2 separate regions of the Homo sapiens genome follow, and region 1 is linked to region 2. Evidence: fine-mapped expression QTL. A gene starts in region 2. The other region holds a variant in brackets. All regions are shown on one strand. Distances are from middle to middle.

Region 1 (4,384 bases), 99 kb before region 2:
GCATATGGAGTTCTGGAGGGGATTGATATTTTACGTATGATAGCCTCATGGAAATAAGTAATTCTTTCCTTGGGTCTTTATATATGAAAGCCTCATGGAAAGAAGTAATTCTTTTCTTATTTGAAAAGAGATGAGAGAAATGGGAGGAAGTGTTCCTGGAAGAGAGTGCAAAATTCCTGATTTAGTAGTGTCTACTCACACATCCGTCTTTCTAATAGTTTACTCAGCACGGATTCAATTGTCTATTGATTCATTATCTATCTATCTTTCTACTCATCTCTTGTTATATCCACCCACGTATCCATCTATTCATCTATTATCCATATCCATCCATATGTCTACTTCTCCTGACATCCTTCTATTAATCTTTCCAATCATTTATATGTCCATATTCCAGCCATCCAATCATCCACCCATACATAATTCCATCTCATGTGTCCTTCCATCAATACATTCATTTACCCATTTATACACCCATTCATCCATCATCCATTCATCCATAAATCCACTCATCTTTTGTTTTGGTACATTTGCTCATTTAGCTGTTGGGCTGATGATCAGCCAATATGCACAGGTACAACACAGTTCAATATAGGAATATATATAATCAGCACCCATTCCAGTAGATTCATATTTGTACCACATGCTTTGTTAAATATTCTAAATATCACATCTGCATTTATCTATCCACCCATCCATTCGTTCTTTCATCCAAACATCCATATATACATACAGATGTTCTTCTGTCCATCCATCTATTTTTTGTTCATCTGCTCATTTGTTCATCCATTCATCAATTACTAAATAATTCTTTCTATTTATGCATGAGTTATACTCTATTTATACATGAGTCCATCCAACCCATTCATTCATCCACCCCATCCATCTGCCCATCCATTCACCCACCTGTCCATCGATCCATGCACCTATCCATCCACTCATCCCTCCATCCATCCACCCATCCATCCATCATTCAATTATCCATCCATCCATCATTCAATTATCCATCCATCCATCCATCCATTTGTTCCTACTTCCTATCATTCTTCATTCATCTTTCCATTCATTCATACTGTTCTCCATAATTGATTCTTTTCTAATCTTTATTTTTCCTTTCTTATGCAACTAAGACATGGTTCATAAGCTCATGGCCCAAGGATAAAGCAGACCACCATGGCCCAGGAGGCTGAACACCTCAATAGAGCCTAAGCAGGGGCTACAGGGGCAGGGATCTGTCTTCATATTGACACATTCTCATCATCCCCGACACATACCTGCGAATGTATGTTCACAGAGCAGCATCCCAGTGAAAGGTGCTTTGAGCACTGAGAGAGCCCATGGGGACAGGGGAGGTCAGGGTGGTGGCCTCATTGGCTCCCGAGTGATCCCTGGTGGATAAATGTCTGTGATTTAAAGAGGAGGCAGCCTCCAAATGCTTGCAGCATGCATCTGTTCAGTGTGGCCCTCTGTTCAAGCAGGCACTGCTGACAGCAGGAGAATGGGCCAGAGCCACGGGTAGGGGGCAGGGTGGTGGGTCATGGGTGCTGGGGGCTGGGGGCTGGGGGCTGGGGGCTGGAGGCTGGGTGGTGAATGGTGGGTGCTGGGTGGTGGTGATGAAGCTCAGATTTTGGTTGGGACTGGGTCTAAGAGAAAGGCTAAAGGATTATTTCTAGATTCATCTGGAACGAATTGGCTAGATCCTTCTATCCCAAGTCCCATTGCTTTTCTGAGGGGAGGTACCTGGGACAGGAGGAGGAGGCAGCCTTGCCTCAGAAACCAAACTGTCAAAAGTGTAGGTTCCACTCAGGAAGGAGGAGCACAGGCACTTTTGAGATGAGGGGGACGTGCTCTTCTCTGGAGCAGAAAGAAGCAGTAGGTGAGGTCCCACCTGCCAGGGATGGAGCAGGAGAGTGACCCCTGCATAACCTTGAATCCTCATCTGCAGCCCATGAGCAGCTGGAGACTGGGGACTCTGGGAAGGGTACTGGGCTTAGAAGCCACCCCCTGCCCCAGTGGACAGAGTATCCTGGACACCTCAGCCACTCTCCCTGAGCGTGTGGTGTGTGTAGAGGCCCCTGCGTCTATACCACTGCTCCCAGGGAAACTGGGAACCCAGGAAGTATGCTGGAACCCTTCATGCTGTGACCTACAAATGCCCCACCAGAGCGGCCCTGCTCCAAGCACTGAGGTCAGGGGCCCATGTGCCTGCCTCCTCCTGCCGGGGGATACAGGGGACTCAGAGGCCCTCCCTGCCACAAACTCCCTTCCCCGACAACCCACAAGCAGCTTGGAGGCAGTTAGCAGATGGAGTTAGGATAGGACTTGCCTGGCCCCAAGAAAGGGCCAGGGGCTTTCCTCCTGCCACCCCTGCTCAGCATCTCCCTCCTCCCTTGTCTGCCTGTGTCTGGCACTGGTGGGGCCGTGCTGGGTGGGACACGGCTAGGAGGCCTGGCTTTCTCAATCCCCTAATCTCCTATCAACCCCACCCCCATGCAGCCCCTCCAACCTCTTTTCAGGTCCCTAGATGTTGGGGAGGGGATGGGGGCTGGGCC[G/A]GCTGTAGAGAGTCTAACCCTGGGGAAGGGGCCCTGCTGGGCTGCCCCCTGGCCGAGCCTCTCCAGCCCGCTCGCTTCCCTCTCTTCTAAGTATCAATACAGCCTCGTCCACAGCCAGGGCCTGGTTCTGTCTGCCTCAGCGCATGTGGAAAGCCCTCTTCGATTGCCTTATGGTCCTGGGCTGCCATCTCCCAGAAGGTCTTTAGTGGCCCCCAAAAAGATGCTGAGGGCTGGGATTTGGGCGGGGCTGGGCTGGAGGGAAGTGGAGGACCTTGCTGGTCCTGCAGCGCCCGGTCCCAGTTCCGCTTTTCGGGACGGTCCCTTTAAGTGCTTGCTGAGCTTGGGCCATGAGCAGTGCTCTGGTGCTCTTGGGAGCCTTTGAGTCCAGAGTGGCTGGTGTGTGGTGTGGGGTCAGAGAGACCCCGGGAAGGGCAGCCCAGCCCAGCTCCCTCCTGGTGCCCGCAGGTCTTGTGGGCCCTCAGCACCCGAACCCCACAGGGGCAAGGACTCAGGCCCCTCCCCAGGCAGGGAGCAGCCCTTGGACAATGCACTTGGCCCCTGTGAGCCTCGGTTTCCGTCTGTGAAATGGGAGGCTCCAGGGACCTGCCTCACAGCTCCGGGGGATGAAACAAGAGCCTTGGTTTAAAAAGCTTGGCAAAGGCAGGGCGCGGTGGTTCATGCTTGTAATCCCAGGACTTTGGGAGGCTGGGGCGGGTGGATCACCTGAGGTCAGGAGTTCAAGACCAGCCTGGCCAACATGGTGAAAGCCTCTTCTCTACTAAAAATACAAAAATTAGCCGGGGGCAGTGGCAGGTGCCTGTAATCCCAGCTACTCAGGAGGCTGAGGTGGGAGAATCTCTTGAACCTGGAGGGCGGAGGTTCCAGTGAGCCGAGATTGTGTCACTGCACTACAGTCTGGGCAACAGAGCGAGACTCTGTCTCAAATAAATAAATAAATAGCTTGGCAAAGACTGGCATGGAGTGAACGCTTGGTCTGAGTGGCTACATTCTGAGTGTGCAGATGGGGAAACTGAGGCTTCAGAGGGGTGCGGCTTACTCATCCAGAAAGCACTCCGAGGGCCTATAGCAGCCGAAGCAAGGCCAGCCCTGGGGCCTTGCAGCCCATCCCCCTCCCGCCGCCCCAGCAGTGGGATCTCAGGGGCTGGGACTGCAAGGCAGAGCTCACGCCCCCACCCCTCACCAGGCTGAGGACTCAGAGCGGGAGACCACTGGGCCCTTTCCACTGCCAACACCCTCCTCTTCTCTAGGGCTCACCCATCCCTCTGGCACGTTCTCAGGGAACTGAGGTGGAGACAGGCTGGCCCGTAGGGTAGCGGAGCAGAGGCCCACCATCCTGCCACCCCAGGGTGTCACCGGCCAGGGCCTGTCCCAGCTGGACCCCAGACCCTCCTGGCACTGCCCTTGTGTGGCTCCAGGATTGTTTTAGGAGACACGAGGGAACCAGGAAGGGGGCGCAGGAAGAAAGGATTCTGGCTTCCAGAATCAGCGGGGGTGGGGCCTGTGATGCTCCCACTTGTGCGACCAGCCCAGCTGGGTGTCGGTGGACAGCAGCGCCTGCCAGCCCACGAGGAAGAAGACATCCTTCTGCTTCCCTGGGAAACTTCCAGATGCCTCAGACCCCTTACCCAGGGCAGGAGGAAGGGGACCTCCCCAGGGATCCTGGGTCCAGACATCAGGTCTTGACCACAGGAAGGTGTAGGGAGGGAGCCCCAGGGCTTAGCCCTCAATCCTAACCTCCCTCAGCAGCCCCTGTGGGGCTAGGGCTGGGGCTGAGGTGGCTTCCCCAACTGTCCCCAGCTCTGCCCTCTTTC
Region 2 (4,380 bases):
GCCCTCACCCGATTCCAGCTCTTGTGCGACTGATACTATTACACCTGCTTCCTGGTCCCTGGAGGGCGTGTCCCTCCCCCAGGACAAAACCTGGAGCTCTTCCAGCCCACCAGCTCTTAGGCAATAATCTCATCTTCCGGGATCACGCCCCTGACAAGCCAGGAAAAGCCAGCTATGACCTTGTACTCTCAAGTCCCTGGGGCAGGGAAGAGGTTTTATTTAAGTGATTAAAAGCCCAGGGGAGCTTCCTTGGAACAAGGAGTGGGTTCACACCAAGGGGAAGGCCAGTGGCCCTGGGGGAGGAGCAGGGACCCCTCTCTCTCTTACTCGCTTCCTGGGTTTAGAACTCAGGACCCCGATCTCAGTCTGGAGCTCCCTCCTGCACCCTGGCTGGCGGTGTGCTGGGTGACAGGACTCTGGAGGGGTACCCTGAGTGCAGCTGTCGGAGGAGGCAGGGCGGTGGGGGGGGCAGCACAGAAGCCTCTAAGGCCCCAGGTGCAGTCCTGGACCTCGTGGAGCCGCATGGAGTGAGGAGAGGTGCGGATGCCCAGAAACAGATGTGGGATGAGGGCACTGGGCAGCCACAGGGTCCATGTGGAGGAGGACAGGTAGTCAAGGAGGGCTTCTGGAGGTGGTGTGGAGGGCCCATCTGATGGCCAGAGGAGGCCAGGCAGAGCTGCCAGTGCCAGCCTGGAGGTGGGGCCACCTTCGTGCAGGTGTCTGGGGGTGGAGAGCAGGTGTGATGGGGGCTGGGTACAGTGGGCTGCCTCAGAGCACTTTGGGCAGGAGTGACAGGTACCCGCCAGCACCCTGAGCAGCCATGCTGGCCACCATCCTGGAAGAGACCAGCGCAGGTGCAGAGGGAGGACGGGAGACCCTTGGGGGCTTTGGAGCCTCCAGAATGGCTGAGGAGAGGAGGGTTGGGCACACTGGCCCCCAGGTTGGGTGTGTGGGGCTGAGGTGGGTGGCGGGTGACCACTTCTTAGGACTGTGGCCTGTGCAACCTGGCGGGGGGCAATGGGTTGCCATTCACTGACTTGGGGGAGCTGGGCCAGCAGTTTCCAGGTGACAGGCAGGAGTTTGGTTTTGGCTGTGGCGACTCTGAGATTCCCCAGGGGCCTCCAGGTGGATGTGCAGCATTGGCAGCGTCGGCCGGCAGGCGGGAGGGCCTCCCTGATATGCCCCGACCCGTGGTTGACAGGATCCCGCTGCACAAGTTCACGTCCATCCGCCGGACCATGTCGGAGGTTGGGGGCTCTGTGGAGGACCTGATTGCCAAAGGCCCCGTCTCAAAGTACTCCCAGGCGGTGCCAGCCGTGACCGAGGGGCCCATTCCCGAGGTGCTCAAGAACTACATGGACGTGAGTATGAGGTCTTAGCCCTGCTGCAAGCGGAGCCACTGTCAGGAGAGCTCCGTGGCAGTATGGGGAACATTCCCACCTCCTGTTCTCAGCAGCGCAGTTTGAGTGGCTCACCTGGCCACGGTGGCGTCCCGGCTCAGCCACACTCCTTTCTTCCCCATTCTGGAACCTCCTGCCACTGGCCCCTGTCATTGCAGGGTCTTGGTCCTGCTAGGGCCTGGGAGGGTGATTGGGAGTGGCCTCGGGCCTTGGTGCCAGCTCGCCTGAGGGGGCGGTCCTTGGGCCTGCCTGAGTGTGGCCGGCTGACCTGGAGCCTTTCACTGCTGTCCTGCTGGGAGGCCTGTGGTGACTCGTGGCCTCCCCAGCCCCTCCCCATCTTCTTCCTCTCGCAACAGCCCCTCCTGTGCCCACTACTCCTTCAGGGGGAAGCAGGATCCAAGGTGGAGCACTCTGGAAGCCACCTAGCAAGCTGGGGCTTGGTCAGCCTGGTCCCAGCTCTATGGGGTCAGTTCGAGGCCAGGGCCTACTGTCCAGCCTCGGGGCTCTGGCCCACTGTGGGGGAGCCTTGCCCTCTGTCCTGCTTGGCCCGAGTCCTGGCTGTGACAGGAAGCCCAAGACTCACAGGCATGTGACTGGGCCAGGGGGGCCCTGGGGGGAACCAGGCGCCGTGTGCCTGGTCCCGACTGGCCAGTTCCTGATTGTCCTAGCGCGCGAGCAAGCAGATGCACGCATGCGCACACATGCACACACACACATGGAAATTTGCTGAGTGTCCCCCTGCCAGTGGTCACTTCTGTGGGGCCATGAGTCAGCAGCTGCTGCTGCTCCGTGAAGCCAGGCGGTTGGAGAAACATTGGGCTGGGCTGGTGCCAGGAATCTGGTGGCTGACGGTGGCCCAGGCTCCAATCCTGGGGGAAGCGGGCGCCCAGGCGACCCCAAACTCCAGGACCCTCTTACTCTCTGCCTCCTGAGAGGCTCGGCGGCATGGGACCCCTTGTACTTGCCTGATCCCTGAGTCAGCACCCCCACCTGCGCCTGCTATCCCTGTGTACACACGGGGAAACTGAGGCCCTGGGCCATTAAGGCAGGGTTGCTGGGCAGGCAGTGATTGTAAGGCTTACCTTCTCCCCTTGACCAGCTGAACCCCTCTGCCTGGAAGCCCTCCAAGCCTGGGGTTCACCCTGGAGGGCAGGGCAGGCACTGAGACACCCAGAATCAGACCTTGACATGGCCCCAACCTGGGGAGGAAGTCACTTCCTTTCTCAGACCTTGGACTGCGGGCCACCAGGGGAGTCTTCCAGGCCGGGCTTTCCTGCACCCGGGGCTCAGGCTGAGGGCCACGTCTGTCCCCACCCTGGCTTGACCTCTGGCCTTGTCTTTTCCGTGGGGAAGTCCTCAGCCTCACCATGTATTGAGCAGGGGTAGGTGACAGAAGCCAGGGGTCTAGAGACCCCAAGTACCCGTGGGCATTAGGACCGAGGGCTGGGGACCTGGCCCATCTTCCCTGCAGGCTGAGCAGGTGGGAGTGGGTGGCTGTTGGCAGCTGTGGGCCCCGTGATGCCCCTCCCTCCAGTATGGGCCTTGGCTCTGGGGACAGCCGGGCCTTCTGAGGCCCAGTGGGGAGATGGGGCCCCCTCTCCCATCCCTGACGGACCCTGTCCCCTGCCAGGCCCAGTACTACGGGGAGATTGGCATCGGGACGCCCCCCCAGTGCTTCACAGTCGTCTTCGACACGGGCTCCTCCAACCTGTGGGTCCCCTCCATCCACTGCAAACTGCTGGACATCGCTTGCTGTGAGTCACGAACCCTGGCCCCGTCGCCCAGGTCCTGCCCTTCCGGGATGTCGCTGCAGGGCTGCCTCAGGAATCACTTGGGCAACGCAATTCTCCTGCCTCTTGGCCCCGTGAGCCAGGCCAGCCCTCCACCCTGCTCCAGCCACTGACTTTCTGGGTGAACCACCAGCTGTGGTCTTGCTCTCAGCAGGGCTGGGGCTGGGGTGGCCACAGAGGGAGCCGGCTGTGGCTGGGAGGGAGGCCCGGGGTCACAGCCCACAGTCCCGGGGCTCTGGCATGATGGTGGGCCTCAGATCCCCTCCAAATCCCACCCTGGGGAGGCAGCTTGGGGGGTGCGGGCTCCATGGTAGATTGTAGGGGGATGGGAGGGCTAAGGCCGTGGCGTGGGCTGCGGGATGACCGGCGGGCCCCCTTGTCGCCCGGGGCAGGGATCCACCACAAGTACAACAGCGACAAGTCCAGCACCTACGTGAAGAATGGTACCTCGTTTGACATCCACTATGGCTCGGGCAGCCTCTCCGGGTACCTGAGCCAGGACACTGTGTCGGTGAGTCCCTCTGGGGCCTTTCCCAGGACTCGAGGGTGCCAGGGTGTGGGGTTCACCCACCGTGGGTATGTGGTTGAAAGGGAGGGCTCGGTGATCCCAGCCCAACCCCAGCCCTCAGGTGGCCGGGGCAGTCAGCAGGGTGAGGAGGGGTCTGGGAATGGGCCTGGTTGTGTGCAGGCTGGAGGGACAGCCTCAAACCCAGGGGGTACAGGGGCAGGGGTCCCCGGAGTCAGGCCACAATGAGTGGGAGGGAGGACAGGGCAGATCGATCGGGCTCTTTTTGGCACATTGGGTTTGAGGTGCCAGCAGGTGTTGAGGGCTGGACCTGGGGCTGCACAGGGTCCCTGCAGCAGGCCGAGGGCTTGGGGAGGCTTGGGGTTGGGAGGATGTACCAGGAACCCGCTGTGGGGGCTGCTGGCGGAGAGTCACCGGCAGGAGCCTGGGAGGGCAAGGGAGGGGGAGCAGCAGTGGCTGTTGGGGGCCCCGCCTGCATCCACCATCCTCAGGGCCCTGTGCAGAGCAACTCCCTGCCCTAGGAGAGGGTGAGCTGGCCCTTGTCACCCTGCCTGGGCCTCAGTGAGTTCTCACCTCGGAGCTGTCTGCTGGGGGTGGACCAGGCCACAAGGGGTTCAGGAGTTACGGGATGGTGACACAGCCCCCAGCTCTGGAGCGGGCCAGG

Evidence for each region. PIP is the estimated chance that this variant, and not a neighbour inherited with it, causes the effect. A credible set is the group of variants that fine-mapping cannot tell apart.
Region 1: its variant is the best candidate, but not a certain one, in a credible set for the expression of PRADX in whole blood (INTERVAL, PIP 0.57).

The regions. Positions count from the first base shown.
Region 1 is chr11:1,856,883-1,861,266 of GRCh38, reverse strand. All of the region lies in intron 1 of LSP1 (lymphocyte specific protein 1), which reads right to left. It overlaps MIR4298 (microRNA 4298), which reads left to right and starts at 1,731; the gene lies at 1,731-1,803. The variant G/A (reference allele first, on the strand shown) is at 2,553.
Region 2 is chr11:1,758,290-1,762,669 of GRCh38, reverse strand. It overlaps PRADX (PRC2 and DDX5 associated lncRNA), which reads right to left and starts at 2,322. Exons shown (of 2, transcript NR_182291.1): 1 at 1,476-2,322; 2 at 184-1,351. It overlaps CTSD (cathepsin D), which reads left to right. Exons shown (of 9, transcript NM_001909.5): 2 at 1,202-1,361; 3 at 3,031-3,154; 4 at 3,583-3,701.